2 separate regions of the Homo sapiens genome follow, and region 1 is linked to region 2. The links come from fine-mapping of genetic effects on gene expression. A gene starts in region 2. The other region holds a variant in brackets. All regions are shown on one strand. Distances are from middle to middle.

What was found.
Region 1: its variant is fine-mapped to the expression of PLEKHA6 in whole blood (TOPMed, PIP above 0.99).

The regions. Positions count from the first base shown.
Region 1 is chr1:204,284,670-204,289,053 of GRCh38, forward strand. The region is part of intron 1 of PLEKHA6 (pleckstrin homology domain containing A6); the gene reads right to left. Among named protein-coding and RNA genes, the nearest start is that of GOLT1A, 73 kb to the left of the region's middle. The variant T/C (reference allele first, on the strand shown) is at 2,265.
Region 2 is chr1:204,357,664-204,362,047 of GRCh38, forward strand. PLEKHA6 (pleckstrin homology domain containing A6) reads right to left here and starts at 2,266. Exons shown (of 23, transcript NM_014935.5): 1 at 2,031-2,266. RefSeq lists enhancers at 1-476, 477-1,403, 1,519-2,154.

The sequences.
Region 1 (4,384 bases), 73 kb before region 2:
GACTGGAGAGTTGTGAAAAAAGCTGGCACATGATGGCAAGGAATGGACAGCGTGTGGATTGTCCTTAAGGAAAAGGGTAAGGCCGGTGGTCTCAGAGTCAGGAGTCTTGGTAACTGACCACTACTGAGTCACTGTCCCTTTCTGGGTCTCAGTTTCCCCACCTGCAACATGTAACGATACTGGAGTTGCTGGGAGGACTAAATATTTAAAACCTCTAGAAGAATGCCTGGCACATTGAGTTGTTTAGTAGTGGCTAATGTTATAATCATTAATAAAATAAGGGAATACAATAAATAGCACTATCCTAAATTTGCACCAAGTTGATAGCCACTAGCCGTATTCTATCTTGAATAATTAAAATTAAATAAAATTAAAATTTCAGTTCCTAGTTACACTAGCCACATTTCACTGTGTCTCAAGAGCCACAGTAGCTAGTGGTTACCATACGGGACAGAATAGTCACAGGACATTCCATCATTGTAGAACATTCTATTGGACAGCACTAGGCTAGATGTTCTCTAAGCCACCTTCCAGTTCTAATAGTTTTGAATTCTATGAAATGCAATTCTAAGCCAGTGTATCCTTCCACCAGCTGATGAGCTCAGTGTCTTCAGTAAATACAAGTTCCCTCATAGACCTAAACTAAGCTAAAAAGAAAGGAAAATCTGCTGTCAACAACAAAAAGTTAAAAATCAGAAATGATATACTCCAAAGTTCACTCAGAATTAATCTGGACAATCCATTGTTTTCGTTTTTTTGGGTTTTTTGTTGTTTTTGTTGTTGTTGTTGGTTTTTTTTTGGTTGTTTTTGTTTTTGTTTTTTTTGAGACACGTTCTTGTTCTGTATCCCAGGCTGGAGTTCAGTAGTGCGATTTTGGCTCACCGCAGGCTCCGCTCCCTGAGCTCAAGCAATTCTCCCACCTCAGCCTCCCCAGTAGCTGGAACGTCAGGCACGGGCCACCACGCTTGGCTAATTTGTTGTATTTTTAGTAGAGACACGGTCTCGCCGTGTTGGCCAGGCTCATTATTTTTAAATCACATGCATTAAGACTCCTCTGCACAGTTTGAAAGTATCATTACTAACAGCACTGGCCTGGTAGGAAACACTGGAAAAGGTCATCCAGCAGCTTAAGGAGGCTGGGAGAGAAGAGTTGGAGAAGGAAGAAGAGTTGGGGAGGAGGCTGGAGACACAGAGGACCTGTTCCTCCCTCCTGCTTTCCTTTTCCTTCCTGGATTGGCCAACCTCTAGCTGACGCTTGGGGGAGGAGGAGGAAAGGGAGGTCTTCTGTGGGGCCATTTGGTCCAGAGCAGGAGAAGCTGGCATGGAGGAGGACAGGGTAGAGGAAGTACCACCAAGGACAGCAGGCTTAGGATTCTTCCTTCCCTGCACCTCCCCTTCCCCACCCAGCACTCATCCAGACCTGGATCCTATGGAAATCACAGGTAAACAACCTGTTGCTAAGCAGACATCACAAGAAGCAGGTGCCAGAGAGCATCCACTGATAACCGGGGCTTACAGAGGGGAGGGAAGACAATCTCAGAGGAACGGAAGAGGTGCTCCTAGGCCTAGACCTAGCCTAGAGAACCTGCTGGCTATAGCCCAGATAAGGAAAAGAGAGGGCCTGAGAAGGAAGGCAGGGAGGCAGTCAGACAAGGGACACTGCTGTTCCCACCCCTGTCCTGCCACGCAGCAGCCGTGAAGAAAGACTGGGCATGGAGGCTGTGACAAGGAGGAATAGAGTACTCTGGGAGGGGAACAGAGAGGAGGAAAGGGAAAGGGATGCAGCACAGGTGCCAGCCGGGACAGAAGCCGGCCTCCATAAGTGACACCTGAGTAACAGGTGAGCCTGCCTACACCTGTTGGAGTATATGAGCAACTATTCTGCACCTGCAACTTCTGGCTGGGCCAGGAAATAAGACCAGCTGCACAATTTGCGGGCCCCTTGTGCAAAACTTAAGGATTTCAAGACAGCAATAGCAGAGCATTAAACCAAGCATGTGGGGCAACTGCACAGTTTGCATCCCCCATGAAGCCCCCCTGCCCTGCCTGGAAATAACAATCCCAGTATACTTCTCCTGGGAGTGTAGGGATGGAGGTTGGCTAGTCACATTTGTGGCTGACTCTCAATATGAGGCAGAACACAACAAGTATCCCCGTTCCTCTCCTATACTCTACTTCCCCTTCTTTCTTGGCCTCAAATGCCCAGAAACTTGGCTGCTTCTGCTCTCGCCCTGCTGGGTCTAGTGGCTGGCACCTTCCCCCTA[T/C]TGTGCCTGGTTTCTGTTTGCCCATGGGCAGCCCAGCCAGAGGAAGCACCACAGCTGAAAGCCACAAGGGGGTTGGGTTTACCTTATCGCTCGAATCTGCTTTCTAAACTGGCACAGGGAGCACCCTGTTCCCACCTAATAGGCTCTCCAGAGCCCCGAGTTCCTCCCTAGGTTCAACCTAGCATCACTATGTCATCGAATCTCTTTCCTCCCAAGAAAGAGGCAAGGGAACAAAAGGGCTCCTAGCTGGGGGCGGGAGGAGAGTAAAGTAAGCACTTCCTTTTTGGTGACAGTCTCCCTCTTTTTTTTTTTTTTTAAATCACGTGGGCATTCATGAGTACACACACAGAGAGATAGCATCAGCTGAGAAAAGCCAGTGCGTCCACCTCCTCCTCCAAGCCAAGGAATTCTTGTCCACACCCCCTCCACAAAACTGTCATTAGAAGGTGCCAGGGTCAAAGAGCACAAATGTTTTGGAGGTTGAAGGGATGAGGGACCTGAAGGGGAAGTTGAGGGAATGGGGGCAACAGAAATCTAAATGCAAAAGGTTGGTTCTCTTTCTCCCTGGATTTCAGTTTTGTTCTCAACTGACAACCTTGTCTTCTTAATGAGTGAAGAGTTCTCCCCGCAACTCTCTGCACCCACCCCCGCCAGGTTCTGTCTTACCCTACATCTCACCACACCTGACTCTGCTAAGTAAAAGGATAAAACCAGGAGCACAGCCATGCCAGTCTCCTGTGGCTCTGTCCCCTCCACCTTCCTCCCGTGGCCCCATCCAGGAAATCGGCCCACAAGAGAGGCCGACGCTGCTTCTGACCAGAGCTACCGAGCGCCTCTCTGGAGACAATGGCTCAGAGAGAAGGAGGAAGACTAGCAGCTCCAGCTTTGTGCTCAGGGTGGCCACACAAAACCATTGTCTTGACATCAGGACAGACAATGGTTTGTATCTCTGGCTTCTGCGCTGAGCAGTTCACTCCCTTGGACTAAGATAATTTTAAAGATTTCCTTCTAATAAATAGTAATGATACTGGAATCTGGCCTCAAGCTGAGAATTTGTATCTGGTTGTAACAAAAGCCCACTCTGGCTGATAGAATGGGTATATCTAGGCTTCCTTTTCTGTTCCAGAGCCACCCAGACAAACATAGACCAGACAGATAACCACTTACTCACCGGCTCTTCTTTGCTGTTCCCTCTGCTGCCTCTAGCCCTGACTCCTTTCACACTGAGGAGTAGGGAGAAGGTTTTCCTTTAATACTCACCAGGTCCCTGGTGGGTAGCAATCATTAACAGCCACACATGCTGGCTGGCCTTAACCCCTTCAGTGCTGGGTTGCCTCAGCCAGCCGGAGCTGGCTGATGGACAGCCCTGTCCCTTCTACTCTGCCCTGAGAAAGTAGCAACTCCCACCTTGATGCCATCCACCTGAGTAATGCTGCCGCCTCCCATGTGGAGAAGGAGAGCCCTCTAGTCCCACCCAGGCCGCCCCGCCTGATTGGAGCACACTTGCAACCTGAGGCGTTTGGCTCTGGCACGATGCCCAATTGGATGAGCCCACATTATGAAATATTTGCCTGGCGGGCCAATAGAGGAACTGGGATCTGGGGGAGGGATGATATTGTTATTTATTCCTGGAGGAAGGAGAGCAGACAAAGATAGTCACAGCATCCCTAGCCCTGGGATGGGAAGCAGTGGGAAGGTGGTCTTCAGATCCATGGAACTGCCTCTAACTGCTCTGTCCAGGTAGAGTGAACTAATTCTTGAAGCTTTCTAAGCAATTTGAGCCTGGCTGTTCAGCTAGAGGGTTTGTTTTTATTTTTATTTTTTTACCTTAATGTCTCTCTGCGCCACTCAGAAGTTTGGAGAGCAGCACTAGGAATTGTAATAGAGATTAAGAGGAGAAACACATTGTCAGTCAAGGAACTGCTTCATATCTGCATAAACTATGCAACCACAGTTATTGTTTATAGTTCAAAGTTGCAGAAATTATTTTAGTGTCTTTGGAGGATACAGACGGAAGGTGAGCAAGAACAAGAAGAGATAAATTCCCTCTTTATCCTTTAAAAATAGGCAACTGATTTGGGGGAAATCTAAAAGTATCTACAAGCAGGACACATGCAAAT
Region 2 (4,384 bases):
ACCTCATCAAATTCACAACAGGCAGTGAGGAAGACGATGAGGAAATTGGCTCGGAGAACGGAACCGCAGCCTGTTCAGCACCAGTTGACACCACGCTCCCATCTGCTGTTGCGGCTTCTTCACTCTGGCCTAGGCCAGTCCCCTGGGCCAAGAGAGCTCGCTCTATGAGCCCGAGGCTGCAGGCTGGGTCTGGGCGAGGTGGGGGCTCTGATGTCAGCCCGGGAGCCAAGGTGGCTGCCTCCCTCACTGACTGAGGGATCAGTAATTATTTCATTTACAAGCAGAAATAATCCAACTCAATAATCCAGGCAGACACATTCAAAGTAATTATCTGTGTAAGGCGTCCTGCACCATCACCTTCCTAGGAAGGAGGAAAAGAAGCCTAGCCCAGCAAAAAAAAAGCAGGTGGGGACCCCCATTGTCTGCAGCCTGTGTGCAGCAGCCTGCCAGGATTAATTACACACCAGTGCTAACACATTTATCACCTCGCCGCTGATTGGAAAACCAATGACTTTTAATAATTCATATCTGTGGCTCGGCACTCTGTGCCCTTGTGCAAAGACACAGAAACTCGCTTGTTTCCATAAGGAAAGCCCAGTGGCAGTGCCAGGAGGGGTGCCTTCAGCCCCTCCTGCCACCCCAACCTGGAGACAGGCCAGAGCCTAGCCGCTCCCACCTCCCCTCCACCAGCAGGGTCTGCTCATGTCCTGCTGAAGCTAAAATGCAGCTGCTCGGGGGTGAAAGCTGGCGACTGAACCGTCCTAGCCACAGGAGCCCTCCTCAGTTTCATACTCTTCCAGGGTGGCCTGGAAAACAGGATTTGGGAGATTTGTAGGGCAAGTGCCCGCAGTGCCCCCGCACCTGCCCAGACAGTGGGCTCAGGCAGATACCTGCCAGCCAGGACCCTGCCCCACCATGCAGGAGACCCTCAGCAGAGTGCACCACTCAAGTGATCAGATTGAGGGTAAAGGGTCTACAGGGCTTTGGGAAGAGCCTCCAATCCCTGAAGGCTGCAACCTCCTCTGACACCAGCTCTGAGCTCCAGCCTCCTCCCCACCACCTTCCACCCTCCTGCAGCTCTCCCTCCCCACCCCTGTGCCCCGGGGATGGCTCTCCCTCTATCCCGGTTCTCCATCTCTGCTCTCCCAGGCTCCACAGCCCCCTTCCCTGCCCTGGCTGGCCTGTTGTCTCAAAGAGCATTTCCCAGGAGCCTCTTCTCCCTTCTTCTCCCTTCTCCCCCACCCCCGCCACTTTCCTGTCTCGCCCCGCTTCCCTCCCCTTCCACTGTAGCCCTCCTTACCCTTCTCTGGCCAGTCCCCCAACTGTCCTCCTTTCCTCAGACTCCTCACACAATACCTCGAGGCTCTTAGCTGGCTGCAGCCTGGTCCCATCATTATAAATGCCATCCCCTCATTCCCTGCCCTCCTCTACCACATACCAGGCTCCAGCTCCTTCAAGAGCTCCCCACTAAATCTGAGACCCCCAGAGCTCAGATGCGTCCTAGGAATTGGAATCCAAGAGCCTCTGTCACCCTTCGACCCAACCTCTGACTCATAAGAATGATACACACCCTGACCCCTCCCCACGCTGAGGAAGGTGAGTCCCTGGGGCTGACCTGAGCCTGACCCTGGACCCCCTCCCTCTCTCCTTCCTGCTGGCAAGATTAAAGGGAGGGTGGGCTGGCCTCTCTGTGCTAGCTTGCGTGGGGGACCCCTGCTGGACCCTAGGAAGCTGCCAGCCCCAACGCTGCCTTCATCCAGGAGATGCAATTCAAATGTAATCAATTTAAACAGCATCAGCCCTGACAGGGGACTCTGGAGGTGGGGGTGGGGGCACAGGGAGGGCTATAATTAGCATTCTCAGCATCCATGATCCCCAAGTAAGGCTGCCAAGGATGAGAGATGGGGAAGCCAGTGCTCCGCAGTGCAAGCAGCCCAGGCTCACGCGGCAGACAGGCAGCTGCCAGCCCTGACCAGAGCCCAGCCTTCCTCCTCCCACCTCATCTATGTGATGCATGAAAACAGACTCACCGGCTTCTGAGGTGTGATCCCCGCGCTGGAAAGCTCTAACTCTGCGAGCCCCAAGGCACCCCTCCCCCCAGCTCAGGCCAGCTGGGGTCCTCCTCCCCCGCCCCTGGGGCCCCCTTCTGCAGAGCGGGGCTCCGGATCTAATCTGATCTAATCAGTCATCTCTCCGGCTGGCAGGTCCCTGGCGCAGGGAGAGGATGCTGTTGTGGTTACTGCAGGATCCAGCATCTTTCCCAGGCAGAGGCAGCTGGGCATGCTCCATCGGCTCCCCCGGGGATTTCAGGGCCACGTGACTCTCCCTCCCCAAGCTGTCACTTAGGATCAGGAGTAAATAGTCCCCGAAAAGGTTTAACTCCATCCACACCAGCGACAAGCTGCTAACCATCCACGCAGCCTGCCTGCCCGGGAGAGGATGGGGTGGCTCAGCACAGCCTCCTGGGCCTTCCACCACCAGGAGAAGGCTGCCCCCCAAAGGGGAGCAGGGCCACCGTCTGGGTAAGCTGCATTTTTAGAGTCCCCCACAAGAGACTGCAGGGAGCCAGAAACTGCCCAGGGTCTTAGAATCATGTGTGGGGCCTCACCCAGCCAGCCTGGTGATCACCTTTCACCTCTGTGGCTGTCTACTCCAGAGAGGGGCACGTCTCTAGGTGTCAAGAGGGCTTGGCTGGGGCCCTGGGGCCTCCCCATCCCCCGCCCCCCCCCCAATATGGTGAATTTAGAGAAATAACATTTGGAGAGGGTTGGGGGCCACTATGAGATGCCAGGATGAGTGGGGTGTGAGTGGGTTGTGGAGCCACTGCCCCCACACCAACCAGCCAGGCTCCTCCCAGGCCCTGGGAGGGAAGTCTGTGCTCCTGTTCCTTCCGTTGCACATTCCTTTACAGATAAGGGCTTCAGTTGGTAAAAATGATATAGGTACTCAGATCACACTAAGACAGACCCACTTGTATTGGAGTCGAGAGGCTTAATTTTTTAATCAAGTTGTTCTAATAATAAACAAAAAATGCAATTATCAGGTGAGTGGGGCCTTGCAGAAACCCTTTCTCTAGCTCCTGCCCAAATCGGTCTTGATAACCCTGAGCAAGGATGCTAGCCAAGCTACGGGGTACCTGGGTTCTGTATTATTCAGGATCAGAGGCAGAAGGAAGGACTTCAGACAATAGGGTCGTAGCTCTGTTTCTGCTTAGACAAAGATTGCTTTCTGCCTCAGTTTCCCTTTATCCACATCTCTCTCAGTTTTCCTCTATCCACGGATTCTCTGTGACAATGGGCAAGTGTAATAAAAACACTGATTTCATAAACAGGATCAGAAAGATGGAAAAAACCAAAAGATTCCCACCTCAACCTCCAGGCAGGCTCGCTGGTCTCAGTCCCATCTGCCCCTTAAACCTGGAAACTGGGGACTGAACCAGATGAGCTTCTGGAGTCACTTCTGAATAGAGAAATATGTCAAGAAGCAGGAGCTAGAGAAAGGGTGTCTGCAAGGCCCCACTCACCTGGTGATTGCATTTTTTGTTTATTATTAGAACAACTTGATCAAAAAATTAAGCCTCTTGACTCCAATACAAGTGGGTCTCTCTTAGTGTGATCTGAGTACATATATCATTTTTACCAACTGAAGCCCTTATCTGTAAAGGAATGTGCAACGGAAGGAACAGGAGCACAGACTTCCCTCCCAGGGCCTGGGAGGAACCTGGCTGGTTGGTGTGAAGGCTGTGGCTCCACACCCCACTCACACACACCACAGCATTGGAGGAAGACAGGGACCTAGAGAGCTACTGAAGGGACTGTCTTTCCCACCCCAGGGCAGGCCAGGCTGGAGCCAGGAATCTGGGGTTAGGGCAGCAGGCGCAGCTCAGCAGCACTCTTGGGGAGGGGGACTCTTGGTCACCTCCCACTGTTCCCCTGCCCAGCTGAGATGTCAGGCCAGCCCTGCATTGGCTATAGGAAAGCTGCTCTGCTGAAGGGGCAGACAAGTTGTGGATGAGGGCCCAGTGCCAGGCAGGACCGATCAAGCCCAACTCACCTGCCCTGGCTCTCCAGGACTTGGCAAGGCTGCCAGGTGCAGGCAGGGGGAGAGTCTGCTTTCAGTCAGCCAAGATGAGGGGCTCTTGGGGGTCTCTGACCCTGCGGAGCCAGTGGAGGAAAGGAGTGGAGGCAAGAGATTACAGCATCCCAGAGGGAGGCCGGGGAGGGGGACAGAGACCCCAGCCCAAGCCCCCACAATCCTCAGGCAGCTGGAAAAGGCAGGCGACCAACAGATGGGCCTGCTGGGCGGGTTTCCTCTCTGGCAGGCAGAGGGCAAGGGCCGCAGACGAGTCCCACGGATCCTTCGAGAAGCCTGAGCCAGACATGTG